Linked DNA regions of Homo sapiens: region 2 is linked to region 1. The links come from fine-mapping of genetic effects on gene expression. Tissue or cell type: subcutaneous fat. Region 1 holds a variant in brackets; the other region holds the start of a gene. All regions are shown on one strand. Distances are from middle to middle.

What was found. PIP is the estimated chance that this variant, and not a neighbour inherited with it, causes the effect. A credible set is the group of variants that fine-mapping cannot tell apart.
Region 2: CCDC124 starts here. The variant in region 1 is the best candidate, but not a certain one, in a credible set for the expression of CCDC124 in subcutaneous fat (GTEx, PIP 0.73).

What each region holds. Positions count from the first base shown.
Region 1 is chr19:17,873,587-17,877,740 of GRCh38, forward strand. It overlaps SLC5A5 (solute carrier family 5 member 5), which reads left to right. Exons shown (of 15, transcript NM_000453.3): 2 at 552-617; 3 at 908-959; 4 at 1,078-1,145; 5 at 2,366-2,520; 6 at 4,137-4,154. Among named protein-coding and RNA genes, the nearest start is that of SLC5A5, 3.7 kb to the left of the region's middle. RefSeq lists an enhancer at 129-901 and a silencer at 694-823. The variant C/T (reference allele first, on the strand shown) is at 2,165.
Region 2 is chr19:17,931,099-17,935,252 of GRCh38, forward strand. CCDC124 (coiled-coil domain containing 124) reads left to right here and starts at 1,917. Exons shown (of 5, transcript NM_001136203.2): 1 at 1,917-1,950. RefSeq lists enhancers at 995-1,533, 1,680-1,739, 1,760-1,949 and a silencer at 2,030-2,079.

The sequences.
Region 1 (4,154 bases):
CTTTACTAAAAATACAAAAATTAGCCGGGCATGGTCGCGCGCGCCTGTAATCCCAGCTACTCAGGAGGCTGAGGCAGAAGAATTGCTTGAACCTGGGAGGCGGAGGTTGCAGTGAGCCGAGATCGTGCCAGTGCACCCTAGCCTGGGCGACAGAGCGAGACTCCGTCCCCCCTCCCCCCCAAAAAAATCGTGACAGGTATATCCTAGGCGGCCAACACCATTGGCCCGGGGCACTGTCTACACTGTGCGCTTGCGGGCCACGTCGGTGTCTGCTGAGCGGTGGCTGCTCCAGGAGCCCGCGCCCGTCAGGCGCAAGTGGGAGGGCGCGTGCACACGCATGGACCAGTCCTCCAGGTCCACGGGGTACGCACAGGCACGGGATGGCACCTGTGCACGGGTGTGTGCGTGCGGCGGGGCCCCCACGTGCAAGAATCTGGCGGGCGCGGTTGGCTTCCGGAGGGAGGGGCCCACCTAGAGAGCAGACCAGGGACCCGAGAGGCCTCGGCTCCTGGGTAAGGACTGTCCAGGTGACCTCGAGTCCCTCCTTGCAGTACCTGGAGATGCGCTTCAGCCGCGCAGTGCGGCTCTGCGGGACTTTGCAGTACATTGTAGCCACGGTGAGTGGCCTCGGCCCCGCCCTCCGCTCAGGGCCCCGAGAGCGTCAGCCTTCACTAGCCCGGCCCCCACCATTCAAGACCCCGCCCAGACCCCGCCCCCCATGCTCCCGTTCTGACCCCGCCCCCATCAGTCCCCTCCCACACCACAGCCGGCCTGACCCCGCCTGCACTCTGGAAGACCCGGCCTATCTGCCCCGCCCATATTCTGGGACCACCCTTCTGCCTCCTCTCCCCATCCCCAACTCGCCCAGACGCCCTCCCTGCTCACCCGCCCCACACTCTGTCTACAGATGCTGTACACCGGCATCGTAATCTACGCACCGGCCCTCATCCTGAACCAAGGTGTGACTCTGGGAGATTAGGGAAGCATGTCTGGGAAGAGAAAGGGAGGGAGAGGAGAACCCAAGACTAAGTTTGCGCCCCGCCCAGGGGCCTAACAGGGGGACCTCTTTTTGCATAGTGACCGGGCTGGACATCTGGGCGTCGCTCCTGTCCACCGGAATTATCTGCACCTTCTACACGGCTGTGGTGAGTGGCCCTGGGAACTCACTCCATACGGGGGATCGGGCCCACTGTGTCTCTTGTGGGGAGACTCTGGGCTTGCCCCTTTCTCCTGAGGAAGCCTCTGTCCCAGCTGGGACCCAGTGTCCTCATCTTTATAGTGAAAAATGATCTGAAAAGCTTATTGCTGAGAATCTAGAGGTATGGTAGCTTCAGGCATGGCTGGATCCAGGCTTCCACCTCTTCTGGCTTCCAGTCCAGCAGGAAGTGAGCTCCTGCTTCATCCTGGGGCTGGCTGAGGTCCCAGGGAGGGCTACCTTTGGCTGGCTCAGGTCTGACCTTGATGGCGATATTATCATCGTAGTGATAATAATAGTAATGGCGGCCGGGCGCGGTGGCTCACGTCTGTAATCCCAGCACTTTGGGAAGCAGAGGCAGGCGGATCACCTAAGGTCAGGAGTTCGAGACCAGCCTGGCCAACATGATGAAACCCCGTCTCTACTAAGAATACAAAAATTACCTGGGCGCAGTGGCACGCGCCTGTAATCCTAGCCTCTCAGGAGGCTGAGGCAGGAGAATCGCTTGAACCCGGGAGGTGGAGGTTGCGGTGCGTGGAGATTGCGCCATTGCACTCCAGCCTGGGCGACAGAGCAAGACTCCATCTCAAAAAAATATAATAATAATAATAATAATAGTAATGGCAGCAATCACTCACTGACACTCGTATATGTCAAGTCATATTCCAAATCTTTTTCACTTATTAACTTGTTTAATTCTACTGGGCACAGTGGCTCATACCTGTAATCCCAGCACTTTGAGAGGCCAAGGTAGGAGGATCACTTGAGGCCAGGGGTTCGAGACCAGCCTAGGCAACATAGTGAGACCCCCCCCCGCCCCCATCTCTACAAAAAAAATTTTTTTTAAATTAGTCGGGCATGGTGGCACCTGCTGTAGCTCCAGCTACTCCGGAGGCTGAGGCAGGAGGATCACTTGAGCCTAAGAGTTCCAGTCTGCAGTGAGCTGTGATCACACCACTGCACTCCAGC[C/T]TGGGCAAAAGACAGAAACCTTTTCTTTAAAAATAAAATAACTAACTTAATTCTTACAACAACACAGTAAGAAGGTATTATTATTAATCCCACTTTAGAGAGGAGGAGACTGAGGCATAGAAGGGCATCAGTCCTAGGCACCACTGAAGGCCAGGTCCCCCATCTAACCGCCCCTCTCCCTCTCTCTGTCCCATGCTGCAGGGCGGCATGAAGGCTGTGGTCTGGACTGATGTGTTCCAGGTCGTGGTGATGCTAAGTGGCTTCTGGGTTGTCCTGGCACGCGGTGTCATGCTTGTGGGCGGGCCCCGCCAGGTGCTCACGCTGGCCCAGAACCACTCCCGGATCAACCTCATGGAGTGAGTGAAAATGCAGAGGATACTCCAGCAGGATGGGGCTGGGACCAGTGCGGTGGCTCATGCCTGTAATCCCAGCACTTTGGGAGGCCGAGGCGGGCAGATCACTTGAGCTCAGGAGTTCAAGACCAGCCTGGGCAACATGGTGAAAACCCATCTCTACAAAAATACAAAAATTAGCTGGGCGTGGTGGTGCACCTGTGGTCCCAGGTAGTTGAGAGGCTGAGGCTGGAGGATTGCTTGAGCCCGGTAGGTGGAGGCTGCAGCAAGCTGAGATCACACTACTGCACTCCAGCCTGGATGACAGAGCTAGACCCTGTCTCAAAAAAAAAAAAAAAAAGAGGCTGGGTGCAGTGGTTCATGCCTGTAATCCCAGCACTTTGGGAGGCCAAGGCGGGGGGATCACCTGAGGTCAGGAATTTGAGACCAGCATGACCGACATCGAGAAACCCCATCTCTACTAAAAAATACAAAATTAGGCTGGGCGCGGTGGCTCACGCCTGTAATCCCAGCACTTTGGGAGGCCAAGGATGGCAGATCATGAGGTCAAGAGATTGAGACCATCCTGGCCAACTTGATGAAAGTCCGTCTTTACTAAAAATACAAAAATTAGCTGGGCATGCTGGCAGGCGCCTGTAATCCCAGCTACTCAGGAGGCTGAGGCAGGAGAATTGCTTGAACCCAGGAGGCAGAGGTTGCAGTGAGCCGAGATGGCATCACTGCACTCCCGCCTGGTGACAGAGAGAGACTCCGTCCCCCCCCTAAAAAAAAAAAAAATTAGCAGGGCGTGGTGGCGCATGCCTGTAATTCCAGCTACTCGGGGAGGCTGAGGCAGGAGAATCGCTTGAACCCAGGAGGCGGAGGCTGCGGTGAGCCGAGATCACACCATTGCACTCCAGCCTGGGCAACAAGAGCGAAACTCCATCTTTAAAAAAAAAAAAAGAGGATGGGGCTGGGCTCCCTTTGTGCCGTGGGATGGTAGAAATCAGCCAATGCCTCCTGCTCCAGGAGGCCCTCGCTGCTCTCTTCTCCTCCCCTCAGACCAGATTGGGGGCTAAAGCCTCTCTGAACTCTCAGCTGGGCAAAGAAAGGTTTTTAAGTGCGTGGATAGATGATTCAGTAAACAAATACGTGAATTTTCAATCTGGCAAATGCCTATGCATATGTCAAACCCACTCCATTTATTATTTATTTATTTTTAATTTAATTAATTTTTTTTTTTTTGAGATGGAGTCTCGCTCTGTCACCCAGGCTGGAGTGCAATGGCACGATCTCAGCTCACTGCAACCTCCGCCTCCTGGGTTGAAGTGATTCTCCTGCCTCAGCCTCCCAAGTAGCTGGGATTAGAGGCACCCGCCATTATTCCCAGCTAATTTTTGTATTTTTATAGAGATGGGGTTTCACCATGTTGGCCAGGCTGGCCTTGAACTGTGACCTCAGGTGATCCATCCGCCTTGGCCTCCCAAAGTGCTGGGATTACAGGCATGAGCCACTGCGCCTGGCCAACAAAACCCACTCCAAATGTCCCCTATAAGGTCCAGAAGCGCTGTCTGGGGCCCTTGGGAGGGTGAAGTCAGCGTGACATCTCCACGTGGCTAACTTGCCCTGTCCCCACCCAGCTTTAACCCTGACCCGAG
Region 2 (4,154 bases), 58 kb after region 1:
CAGGCTGGTCTTGAACTACTCACCAAGTGATCTGCCCGCCTCAGTCTCCTGAAGTGCTGGGATTACAGCTATAAGCCACCACGCCTGGCCTTTATTATTATTATTTATTTATTTATTTTGAGATGGAGTTGCACTCTGTAGCCCAGGCTGGAGTGCAATGGCACGATCTCGGCTCATTGCAATCTCTGCCTCCTGGGGTCAAGTGATTCTCCTGCCTCAGCCTCCCAAGTAGCTGGGATTACAGGCATGTGCCACCACGCCCAGCTAATTTTTGTGTTTTTAGTAGAAACAGGGTTTCACCATGTTGGTCAGACTGGTCTCAAACTCCTGACCTCAGGTGATCTGCCTGGCTCGGCCTCCCAAAGTGCTAGGATTACAGGCGTGAGCCACCATGCCTGGCCTTTATTAGTATTTTTTAAGAGAGGTTCCTTCACCCAGGCTGGCTGGAGTGCAGTGGCGCTATCATACCTCACTGCACCCTCCAACTTCTGGGCTCAAGTGATTCTCTTGAATGGGAGGATGAGCATGCCACCACGCCCAGCTAATGTTTTTATCTTCTGTCGAGATGGGGTCTCATAATGTTGCCCAGGCTGCTTTCAAACACCTGGCCTCAAGCGATCCTCCCACCTTAGCCTTCCAAAGGGTTGGGATCACAGGCATGTGCCACTGCGACCAGCCAGGATAATAATCTTTCATGTGATTTTCCGACTTTAAGCCCCCTGCACCCAGAGACCTTTCTGTCTCATGCCTGAAGGGAAGGAACTGGCCACGGAAAAACCTGGGAAATTCCTGGGGGAACTCCCTGAGGCAAGACTGCGCCTGGCAATTTGTAAGAAGGGGGCTGGTGCGACCTGAGCAGAGAGCTAATGGGAGGGTGAGGGAAGCCAAGGGAGATGGGGTGGGAGGTGGGAGGAGTCTTGCGGGACAATGGGAACCCAGGGGAGGCGTTAGAGCAGGGGAGGTGCATCGCGCACTGGGATTTAGGTCCCAGCAAGGTCGCTGGGGGGATGCCTTTTAGGGAATGGACTCTGTGGTCAACTACTCCTACCTGAACTGCCCCCAAAGCATTTGCTTTTCCCTCTCCACAGTCAGGACCAGTGTAACCTTAGACCCCTAATACTGCCATTTTTACTGTTGAGAACACCGAGAAGTAGTAAATGCAGAAAATCTAAAGTATAGTGCCTAAGACAAATTGGCGCCTCAAACCTAATTTCTAAATAAAATTAATAAATAATATTGCAGAAGTGGGGAGCAGGTCAGCAATCCAGGAAGAGGCACTGGCAGGAGCAAGAGACGGAATTTGAGCCTACTCGCGGTTATGAGCCTACTCGCGGTTACATTTTGGCCAAACTCAATTCCTGGTCTCTCTGAGCCTCGGTTTCCCTACCTGGACTGCGCGGTGTGTGTTAATTTCTCTGCCCCATTTATCTCCCCTCTCCTAGCCCCGCCCCAGCGTCACCAGTGGGACGCAGAGACTCAGGACTAGGAAAGCACTTTTAAAGCGTTAAGGGATTGCGAAGAGCTACGGAGAGGCTTCCTCAGGGCTATACTGGGTCCACCTCCCCTCATGGACCGCGGGCGCGCTCTGGCGGCCGGGCCGCTCCAGGCTGAAGCCGCCGGACCACGTGTGTAGTCGCAGCTGCCATCTTTCATCCGGGCATCGGCCATCTTGGTAAAGGCAATGTTCTAGATTTTCGCCTCTGCCCGCCCCTCCTGGTTCATCAACATATTAAATGAGCGTAGGGAATGAGGGCGTATTAAGTGTCCTCTTTTTGAAGAGACAAAGAAGTGGCTGACTACCCTGGCTTGGGTCCGAGGCCCAGCCATCTTTTTCTTTACCAAAATGGCGGCGGTACTGAGGCGCAATGAGTGCGCGCCGCCAGGAGCTCAGCGCGCAGGCCCCATGATGACGTCACGGAGGCGCGACCGGGCCGGCGCTGGGGTAAGAAGGTAGGAGCGTCTGCGGCGCGGGCGGAACCCGGGTTCGGGGAGCAGAGGCGCGGGGCGGGGGCTGCTTGGCCTGGGACCATCCCCTGGGAAGGCTGGAGGAGGGGTGCTGGGAGGCAGGAGCACTTCTGGCGTCCAGTCTGAACCGCACCTAGTTGGGGGCGATGCCCATTTCCAGACTAGACGATTGAAGCCCGACGCGACAGCATGTTCGAGGCCACCTGGCCCCGGACTGCCCCTAGGCAGCTTCTGGTCTCGAGAGGGACAGAGTTGGGCGCGGACTCCCCCGGCCTCTTGTAGGGGGATTAGTGGTGGGGGACTTCAAAAGGGATAGCCGGGAGGGCTGCTTAGAGGAGGCATTGTTGAATTTTGTATTCTGTTATTTTACCTTCACATCCGTGGGGTCTTAATCCCCATGGGTCTTGATTCGCTTCTAAGTGTGCCCCTCGCCCAGCCTGAGCCACTCCCTGGGTACCGCCTGGGCTCCCAGCTCCTGCCATCTGGGGAGTCCACCTCCTCACTAACCCCAGAGGGCTTGTGTGACCCATAGATTGGGCTTCCCGGCTCTAACGCCCTCCACACCTTCCCATCTCCCTGGAATACAAATCGCCCCCTTTTCCAGCCTACCTCCTGCATCCCGCGTGCAGGCTGCGCTCTCCCCCACTCATTCAGACTTTTCCTTAGATGTCTCCTTTAGGAAGCCCTTTGACCCAGGCTGGGTCAGAAGCCCTCTCCGGGCTTCCCCGGCGCCCTGCGTGTCCTTATTAGGACTCTGATTGCATGTGTTGGCTCTTCTCTGGGAGTCCCATGCAGGCAGAAAGCTCATTTGTGCCACCTCTTTCCCCAGCATCGCACACGTATTAGGTGCCCAGTACATATTTATTGAATGACGTGTGCAAGTGAGTGAGTGTTTACTACACAGAGAAAAGTGTCTGTATTTCCAGCTTGGGCTGTCATAACTAATACCACAGACTGGGTGGCTTAAACAGCAGAAATTGCCAGGCACTGTGGCTCACACCTGTAATCCAGGCACTTTGAGAGGCCGAGGCAAGCGGATCACTTGAGGTCAAGAGTTTGAGACCAGCCTGGCCAACATAGTGAAACCCCGTCTCTACTAAAAATACAAAAATCAGATAGGCATGGTGGCACATGCCAACATGGTGAAACCCCATCTCTATAAAAATACAAAAATTAGCCGGGCGTGGTGGCAGGTGCCTGTAATCCTAGCTGCTTGGGAGGCTGAAACAGGAGAATTGCTTGAACCGGGTGGGTGGAGGTTGCAGTGAGCCGAGATTGTGCCACTGCATTCCAGCCTGGGTGAAAGAGCAAAACTCCGTCTCAAAACAAAAAAAAGCCCCAACGTGGAAACAGCCCAAATGTCTAGCTGTGGACAATGGATAAACAAAATGTGGCGTATCCATGCAGTGGAGGAATATTCAGCCATAAAAAGGAACGAAGGGCCAGGCGCAGTGGCTCAGGCCTGTAATCCCAGCACTTTGGAAGGCCGAGGCGGGAGGATCACTTGAGCCCAGGAGTTCAAGGCCAGCCTGGGCAACATAGTCAGACCCTGCCTTAAAAAAAAAAAAAAAAAGCTAGGCATGGTGGCCTGCACCTATAGTCCCAGCTACTTAGGAGGCTCAGGTGGGAGGATCACTTGAGCCCAGGAGGTCAAGGCTGCAGTAAGCCGAGATTTCGCCACTGCACTCCAGCCTGGGCGACAGAGTGAGACCCTGTCTCCAAAATAAATAAATAAATGTACTCTCACACTGTGTGGCCTTTTGTGTCTGGCTTCTTTCACTTAGTATTGTGTTGTTGAGGTTCAACCACATTGTATCATGTATGTATTGGTGCCTTGTTTCCTTGTTTCCTTTTTTTTTTTTTCTTTTAAGAGACAGGGTCTTGTTCTGTTGCCCAGGCTGGAGTGCAGTGGCACAATCATAGCTCACTGTGGCCTCAGCCTCCTACGCTCAGGCGATCCTTCCACCTCAGCCTCCTAAGTAGCTGGAACTACAGGCACAAGCCACTGTGCCTAATTATTTTTTATTTTGTAGAGACGGACTCTTGCTATGTTGCCCAGGCTGGTCTTGAACTCCTGGCCTCAAGCAATCCTCCTGCCTCAGCCTCCCAAAGCACGGGGATTACAAACGTGAGTGATCGCACCCGGCCTGTGATTCCATTGATATGGACTGAAATGTCCAGAACAGGGA